Regions from separate parts of the Homo sapiens genome. Here region 2 is reported to be linked to region 1. The links are microRNA targets in miRTarBase. Many come from high-throughput screens and were not tested one by one. Region 1 holds a microRNA gene; the other region holds the end of a gene's coding sequence.

Region 1 (4,379 bases):
CCAGGGGTTCCCATCCCTGGTCCTCTCCCCAGGGTGCAGGGCAGGTAACGGAACTGATCGCGCACTCTTCATACAGACGCTTATTAAAGGAGATTTACTTTTACTGCAGCTCTTCTTGCCCATCAACTGTCCAAAAACAAAAGACTAGGAAACAGACCCAGCAGCCTCCACCCGACCCAGCCACAGGGCCTCAAGCCTCCAATCAGAGCCGCTCCATGGCACCCCTCAGCTCAGCTCAGTGTTGCCTGGGAGCAAAAGGCTCGGAGACAAAGCCCAGAGGGTGAGCAGGGGGGCCAGCCCCGCGTGTCTGTGAGGGTGCCAAGCCCACCGTGGGCCTTGCCTCCTCTCCCAGGACTCCCGCGCCCTCCTGAGCTCCTATCAGCCTGGCCTCAGTAGCAAGCTGGCTGCCCAGGCTCTTAATCTGCACCGAAGTCCCTGGCCACTGTCCCTTCACCCTGGCATGAGGCCGGCCTCCCTCTCCACCAGCCGGCTGACCGTGCGCAGGGCCAGGGGCAGGGCCGTGTTGGCATCGCGGTGATAGCGGGGGCTGCACACCTCCGTGCTGGGTGTGAGCACAAACTGGGCCACGCTAGGCATCTTCAGCAGGGTCAGCAGCTCTGTGGCCCGGGTACGGATGGCTTCCGCGCCCTCCTCGCTGTGCGTGGAGCTGGTGGCTGGACTGTGAGCCAGGGTCCTCATCTTTGACAGCAATAAAGAGGCCCTGGGGAAAGAAGGTCCCTCCGTCAGCTGCAGATGCTCCCCTCCCAGGACAGGGGTCTGTGTGGAGGGGCCAGGCCTGAAGCGCCCAGCAGAGTGGCTTTAGCTCAGCAGGGCCCACCCAGGACCTGCGCTGCTGCGACCATTTCACAACACCTGGATGGGAAGACCTCAGAAGCCACCTCTCTTCCCCAGGAGCCAGAAGGCTTCGCTCCCTCCCTGACCAGGCACCTGGGGATCAGATCTTGGCTCCGGGAGGCCAGCTTCGTCAGCGTGGTCATCAGCACGGTGACCACCTGGGGGGGACACCTGGGCAGGGCAGCAGAGGGGCGGCACTGGGTGACCTCGAATAGCAGAGCCTCCAGGGCTTCGAAGAACTTGTTGATCTGCTCCACGGTGCACCTCCGATCGTAGGTCACCGACAGGTACTCGCCGATGGCCCACACCTAGGCCCGGGGACAGAGATTCAGCCCCCACCCAGGCCTCCTGGGTCAGGAGCGGCTGTGGGAGGCCAGCGCCCGCCTTACCACGCTGGTGACGAGGCTCGCCCTGCTGCAGAGACCATTCACGCTGCCCAGGAACTCCAGCAGGTCTCTTGCCAGCTCCACCACCAGGGAGGGTTTCAGCGTACACAGGGCCAGGAACTGAGAACTCAGCACACTGCCCAGAAAGCCGGGTCTACGCCTGCTCTGTGCAGACCTATGACCCCATCCCCATCCAGGCCAAGGGCCTGGAGAAACCCGGGAAGCGTCTGAGTGGTAGGTGTATGCTGCACCCTCCGATAGAGGAACACAGAAGACTGCCAGCCTCAGAGAAACTGTTCTCACTGGGGAGAAGGCTGGCACCAGCGCTGGCCTCAGGCCCAGGCTCAGAGTGGAACCAGGATGGGCCTGCATGCATCAGGCCTTTGGAGAGAAGGACCCCAGGGGACAAGACGGGGAAGAGGGACCTGAGCTAACCCTGAAGAGGACAGGCTCGGCAGAAAGAAGGACGGGAATGTTCTTGAGAAGCAGAGAGAAGTGCCTGGGGCTGGGTGTGGGGCTGTGGGTGGGGGTGGCAGGGTCTGAGGCTGCTGAGGGCCCAGCTAGGGGTGGTGCCGAAGCCACTGAAGGGGAGGGGGGAGGGGAGAGGGGGAGGAGTCCAGGAGGCACCCGCCCAGGGCTGTGGCAGGAGCGCAGGAGGGACCTACCTGTGCACACCGGCAGCGTACCCTGGGGCCGGGTAGAGCGAGTCGCTCCTGCCCAGGAGCAGCAGCGCCAGCTGGTTGATCAGGGACCCGTCAGCCACCTGGGGGTCAGGAGTGGGAAACAGGCTCAGCCCCACCCCCACTGCAGGCCCTAAGGTTGGGGGTGAAGCCATGGTGAGGGCTGGGGGGCAGGTGAGGGGCTGGAGACTCCTCGTCCACTGCCTTCCCCAACACCCAGGGACACAGAGACTCAGCTGGCAGCATCCGGGCACAGGGAGGGAAGCCCTGGGCTGGCCCAAGTGCCCCCGGCAGAGGTGTCGCTTCTGTTCCACGGCTCCTCTGCCAACTCCCGCTCTGCAAGGCCAGGCACACGTCTTGTTTGGCCAAGGGTGCGCCCAAGCAACGCCCAGCCCCCTGCCGGCCTCCCCACCTCCCAGGCTCTCCTGCACTGGCTTGTAGAGCTCCCCGAGGTGGGAAGCAGCAATGGGGGAGATGGGGGGCACCAGCCTGTGGGAGCCTTTATTTTGGCCTCAGATGGGGATGCTGAATTATCAGGGGCAGCAGGGGGACAAACTGCTCCGGCCCCAGCTGTGTGGCCAGAGCCCAGGCCACTCACTTGCCCTGTCCTGGGGACGGAAGACAGGGCCTGCTGGGGCAGTTGGATGGAGCCTGCTGGGATGGGAGACAGGACCTGCCGGGATGAAGGGGATGGGACGGGGATTGGGGGACGTGGCCTGCCGGGATGAAGGGGATGGGACGGGGACTGGGGAACGGGGCCTGCTGGAATAAAGGGGATGGGACAAGGGACGGGGCCTGCCGGGGCTGTGGCATGTGCCTCCCTGACCCTCACAGGGACCGTGGATGGTGGGTGTGGCGGGAGCAGCCTTCTGCAGAGCTCAAGAGGGCCCCCCAGTGCTGGCTCTGGCCTGCCCCTCAGTTGTGAGGCCTGTGGGAATGGGGGGCCCCAGGCAGCGAGCTCACCTGGGTCACTGCTGAGAAGAATGCCTGCAGCAGCGTGGGCACGGCCTGGGCACACTGGGCCACGCGGGCACAGCCGGCCATGGGCTGCAGCAGCTGGTGGAGTGGCGCCAACCTGAGGACACAGTGTGGCCGTGAGTGCTGCCCGCTCCCCGACCTGGTGACTGCAGGCCGGGGCCACGTCGCCACTGCTCCCTCTCGCACAGCTGAGCCCGCTCCCATCCTCACTCATCGCCTCTCGGGACCTCCTGCTCCCCTGGGTTTGGGGAGACCCCTGGCGTCAGCACACCCGGGACAGTAAAGCCATCGGGACAAAGGCTGGCGTGGGCTGAGGGCAGGAGGCCTGTGGCCGGTCCCAGGCCTCCTGCTTCCTGGGCTCAGGCTCGGTTTGTCCATCTGCAAAATGGAGCACCCACAGGGCCAACCTCCAAGCTTATGAGGGTTGATGTGGGCAGCAGAGAGAGCTGAGACCAGGCCCCGCCCCCGGCAGACCCGTGGTGCAGAAGCAGGGCCTCTATAATGGTGATGACGGGGACGCAGCCTTGTGTGGGACACAAAGCACCCTGGCCTCAGCCTAGGGCTGAGCAGTGAGCCCCACCCCAGTGGCTGTGGCCGGGCTCTCTGAGCCACTGGTGGCCCCCTGGCCCTAGGGCCCCGTACCTCTCAGTGGCGCCACTGGCCTTGGGGCGCAGCAGGTATTGGAAAAGACCCTGGAACTGCGGGTCCCGGAAGGCCTCCAGGCAGCTGGGGGCCCTGAGAGAGGTGTCCCAGAGTGGCCTCTCGGATGCAGCCGGTGCTGACCTGCGTGGACAGACGCCCAAGGCCAGGCTGGGATGCGGCCCCTGCACTCAAGGGCACCCCCGTCAGGGAGACACACGGCAGGTGTCCCTAATATCACAGCACCTCGGGTGCCAGGAAGGGCTTGGCATGGGAGGCTCCAGGCCTGGGCGTGAAGACGGGTGAGGCACTCCAGGGTGCAGGGGCTGCCCTTGGCAAGTGGCCAAGGGTGACAGACACACCCTGTCCTAGAGGTGGCTTTGCAGGGGAGGACTGGTCAGGTGTTGGGGGGGGAAGAAGGAGGGTCCCCGGTGTAGGGGTCAGGAGCAGCGAGGAGGGGGCCCAGTGTGTGGAACCAGCTGGCTGGGAGACGCAGCGCTGGCAGAGGGTGAGGGGCCCACCTGAGCTGCAGGTCCAGCACCGCCGTCAAGCAGGGCAGGTCCAGCAGCGCGTGCAGCATCTCCAGGGCTGTGCCAGCGTCCACCAGGGCCGGGAGGAGCGCCACAAACTCGGAGGTGAGGGGTGGGCTGTTCCAGGCCAGGAACTGTGGGCACAGCACAGCGGTTCGGACACGGCTCGGAGCTGTGGAGCAGGCGGCAGAGGGAGGAGCCAGCTAGGGCCCCACAGCTGTCCCAGACCTGCAGTCCCCAGGAGGGCTTCTACCTTTGCCTCCTCCCGCTTTTTATTTTTTTGAGACAGGGTCTTGCTCTGTCGCCCAGGC
Region 2 (4,379 bases), not on the chromosome of region 1:
AGGTCTGGCTTGGGCCTGGCTGAGTCCTGACATCAGGATATGATCTCGTCCTCTCCAACTCTTGACTCTACTTTCCTTGATGTTGGCTTCATTTTCCGGAAGCCCATCCCTTGTGGTGGCAAAAAGGCTGCCAAAACCCCTAGGCAGATATCCCACCCTCTCAGAAATCCCAACAGAAAAAGAAGGTCCCAGGAGTATGTCTGATTGGACCAACTTGGGCCACGTGCCTATCCCCAAACCAAGGACTATAGCCAGGGGGATGGAATTCTACTTTGAGTGGCCAAGTCCAGCCACCTCGCTGGATCTGAGGGATGGGACCAGTTCTTCTGAAGGTATATGGACTGAGAATGTTTTCCCAAGGAAAATGGTGCACTGTTTTCAAAATAAGGGGGACTTGATGCTGAATAGGCAAAGGCAAATATGTCCACTACAGGGCTGGGAACTGCACCTATCTCATGCAGGCAATGTCTAGCACATAGCAAATATCCAAGACCTGCCAGTCATTATCATCATCATTTTGCCAGAGGTGGGGGTTTGGGTCCCATGACCCCAGGTTGGAATTGCAGGTCATTCTTGACCATACTCAGCCCTCATCTCTCTGTCTCTCCCAGGTGGTCCTGCCGTCCTACGAGGAAGCCCTGTCTTTGCCATCGAAGACCCCAGAGGGGGGCCCAGCACCACCCCCATACTCAGAGGTGTGACCCTCGCCAGGCCCCAGCCCCAGTGCTGGGAGGGGTGGAGCTGCCTCATAATCTGCTTTTTTGCTTTGGTGGCCCCTGTGGCCTGGGTGGGCCCTCCCGCCCCTCCCTGGCAGGACAATCTGCTTGTGTCTCCCTCGCTGGCCTGCTCCTCCTGCAGGGCCTGTGAGCTGCTCACAACTGGGTCAACGCTTTAGGCTGAGTCACTCCTCGGGTCTCTCCATAATTCAGCCCAACAATGCTTGGTTTATTTCAATCAGCTCTGACACTTGTTTAGACGATTGGCCATTCTAAAGTTGGTGAGTTTGTCAAGCAACTATCGACTTGATCAGTTCAGCCAAGCAACTGACAAATCAAAAACCCACTTGTCAGTTCAGTAAAATAATTTGGTCAAACAACAGTCTATTGCATTGATTTATAAATAGTTGTCAGTTCACATAGCAATTTAATCAAGTAATCATTAATTAGTTACCCCCTATATATAAATATATGTAATCAATTTCTTCAAATAGCTTGCTTACATGATAATCAATTAGCCAACCATGAGTCATTTAGAATAGTGATAAATAGAATACACAGAATAGTGATGAAATTCAATTTAAAAAATCACGTTAGCCTCCAAACCATTTAATTCAAATGAACCCATCAACTGGATGCCAACTCTGGCGAATGTAGGACCTCTGAGTGGCTGTATAATTGTTAATTCAAATGAAATTCATTTAAACAGTTGACAAACTGTCATTCAACAATTAGCTCCAGGAAATAACAGTTATTTCATCATAAAACAGTCCCTTCAAACACACAATTGTTCTGCTGAAGAGTTGTCATCAACAATCCAATGCTCACCTATTCAGTTGCTCTGTGGTCAGTGTGGCTGCATAACAGTGGATTCCATGAAAGGAGTCATTTTAGTGATGAGCTGCCAGTCCATTCCCAGGCCAGGCTGTCGCTGGCCATCCATTCAGTCGATTCAGTCATAGGCGAATCTGTTCTGCCCGAGGCTTGTGGTCAAGCAAAAATTCAGCCCTGAAATCAGGCACATCTGTTCGTTGGACTAAACCCACAGGTTAGTTCAGTCAAAGCAGGCAACCCCCTTGTGGGCACTGACCCTGCCACTGGGGTCATGGCGGTTGTGGCAGCTGGGGAGGTTTGGCCCCAACAGCCCTCCTGTGCCTGCTTCCCTGTGTGTCGGGGTCCTCCAGGGAGCTGACCCAGAGGTGGAGGCCACGGAGGCAGGGTCTCTGGGGACTGTCGGGGGGTACAGAGGGAGAAGGCTCTGCAAGAGCTCCCTGGCAATACCCCCTTGTGTAATTGCTTTGTGTGCGACAGGGAGGAAGTTTCAATAAAGCAGCAACAAGCTTCTGTCTGGCTGATGTGTTTCTGGAAATACAGTGTAGGGAGGGTGGAGACCAGCCTTCTACCTCCATCACCCCAGGACTCACCCACACCCCCTACACCCACACCCCTCCACACACTCACACCCACCCCCACACACCCACAAATACACCCAAACACCCACACTCCCCCCACATACCCACACACTCACACCCTCCCCACACCCCTCCACACACTCACTCCCACCGCCTACACACCCACACACCCCCCATATACCCACACACTCACACCCCCCACACCCCTCCACACACGCCCACCCCCACACACCCATGTAAACACTCACACATACCTAGTTGCTCCATCCAGAAACTCCTCCCATGGGCCATGCTGAGCGAGGGGTGGTCCTGACCCAATGCTGTCTGATCATGAACCACAGCCCAAGATGATGCACCCTGATGTCTCCCTAATCAGGCGTGCACTCCACTCCCCTGGGGCTGGGTCCTGCTCTGGACACTGGGGAAGACCTCAACAGATGAGACTCGCCTCCAGTTCCCCCCAGTCTGCGGTAGGAGGGACAGATCTGCAAAAGGGCTGCCACGATAGGGAAAGCCTAGGGGACCTCAGACGTGGCCTGAGGGCCAGAGAAAGCCTCTTGGAGGCTGTCACCAAGTGGAGTCTGAAGGATGAGAAGGCAGCAGTAAGCAGAATGGGAAGGGTGCTCTAGGTCTAGGTAGCAGGACACGCAAAGACTCTATGGCATTGGGGAGAGGAGCTGGGGCGAGCTGCTCAGCGTGGCTGCAAGTGGGGAGGGGAGGGAGAAGAGGTCGGCCCGCTGTGGGGCTGGGTCAGGAAGAGTGTTTGCACACAGTGGGGCTCTTTAGGTGCAAGCTCACCCTGGCTAAGTTCAGCCAAGAAGGGAATTTACAGGAAGGACATGGTTGCAAGTAACAGAAGCCTTATGAGCCAAGTTTATTATGAGAAACCAGAAGGTGGTTCACGATGTTTCTTGGCTCTCATACAAATAAAAAATCCAGGGATTTTTGGCTTCAGGTATGGCAGGATCCAGGACTACAACTCTTTAATAATGTCTCTCTGTTTCTCCATCTCTTATCTTTTCTCCCCGGTGTGGCTGAGCTGTTGAGGACTTACCTGAAAGTAAAGTTAATAAAGAGACCAGGGCTGTTTGAATTGGGATCTGTCACCAATACCAAAAGAGCCCTCAGAGCCTTGAATGTCACACCGAGGAACATGGACTAATCCTGAGACAGGTGTCTTTGAAGGATTTTGGGCCAAGGAGTTACAAGGTTTGGGTTTTAGGAAGGAAGAGCCCAAATGCAGGGACCCCTACAAAGGCTGGGGAAGTCATCCTATGGGGCGGCAGGGACGGGGATGAGTTTGAGAGGCATTGTCAACCTTCTGGTGGTGTCAGTTTTTTTGTGGAATGGCAGATTTCTTCATGGATGTTATTTGCTCCTTATCAGACCCCCAAGCAGTTGGTGCAGTGTAATTCACAGAAATGGAAAGCGAGCTCCTGTTCACACTTGAGGGCAGAGGCCCAGAGACATCAAGTGACTTTCCTGAGGCCACACAGTGGTCAGAGATGAGACCAAGCACCTTTTTTTTCTACTCCGAGTGGAGGCTTTTAGACGGGCTGGGGCCCAGTCTGTGTCAGTTGTTGCTTCTTGCAAAGACCCATGGGAAGAGGGCCCGCTGAGAAGCCCCGGCAAGTGTGGATTGGGAGCAGAGGTCACGGGAGGAGAGACATTGGCCCAGCCTTGCATCCTATCACAAGGAGATTGAAGGGCCATGGCTGCGTGTGTCACAAGGACCAGGAGGCCCTGAACTTCCCGGCGCGACTCTCCCGTCCTTCCCGCCTTCCCCGACTCCCACCTCTGGCCTGGAGCCGAAGAACAGGCTGAGCTGTGTAGTGGGATTGTGCCCTGTGGCCAGGCAGCTGGGAGGGGGCCACCCGAGGGACAGGAAATAGCTGGGTTTGGGGAAGTCCGCATGGCTAGCCAAGCCAAGCGAGCCCACGATCGCCTGGGCAGCCCTCACTGAGGCCCTATCAATGCCCCGTTTGAGGCTCACACAGGGGTCCTTTGACGGGGCTGCGATGGTTTGGACCCACTGACAGCGCCTGTTTGAGCTTCATGCCTGGAAAGGAGCCGGCCCCAGGACAGAGGGGGCTGCTTCCAGGCCTGGGCAGGTGAGGGCAGCCTGGAGTGGTTGTCTCTTGGAGGGAAAAAAGAGCTGGTAAAATTAAACCTGGGGTGCTAAGCGGGGCAACTTCAGGTTTCTCGGGAGCTGTGATGGTAGCAGGAAGGGTCCCCGTAATTGAGTGGGCCC

The links. Region 1 holds the annotated microRNA hsa-miR-4656 (UGGGCUGAGGGCAGGAGGCCUGU, at 3,206-3,228, shown strand). A microRNA usually pairs through its seed, bases 2 to 8, with sites in the 3' UTR of a target mRNA and lowers its output. Matches are read on the target gene's strand: a 7mer-m8 pairs with bases 2 to 8, a 7mer-A1 pairs with bases 2 to 7 and ends in A, and an 8mer does both.
Region 2: miRTarBase lists LAPTM5 as a target of hsa-miR-4656. Seed matches in the 3' UTR shown: 8mer at 926-933 and 7mer-m8 at 1,719-1,725.

What each region holds. Positions count from the first base shown.
Region 1 is chr7:4,787,457-4,791,835 of GRCh38, reverse strand. MIR4656 (microRNA 4656) reads left to right here and starts at 3,197; the gene lies at 3,197-3,271. It overlaps AP5Z1 (adaptor related protein complex 5 subunit zeta 1), which reads right to left. Exons shown (of 17, transcript NM_014855.3): 11 at 4,060-4,202; 12 at 3,542-3,682; 13 at 2,885-2,996; 14 at 1,907-2,004; 15 at 1,245-1,377; 16 at 949-1,163; 17 at 1-721. The coding sequence ends at 451.
Region 2 is chr1:30,730,150-30,734,528 of GRCh38, reverse strand. It overlaps LAPTM5 (lysosomal protein transmembrane 5), which reads left to right. Exons shown (of 8, transcript NM_006762.3): 8 at 612-2,060. The coding sequence ends at 701. Among named protein-coding and RNA genes, the nearest start is that of MIR4420, 6.9 kb to the left of the region's middle. RefSeq lists enhancers at 704-1,205, 1,246-1,751, 1,752-2,257, 3,927-4,036, 4,187-4,316.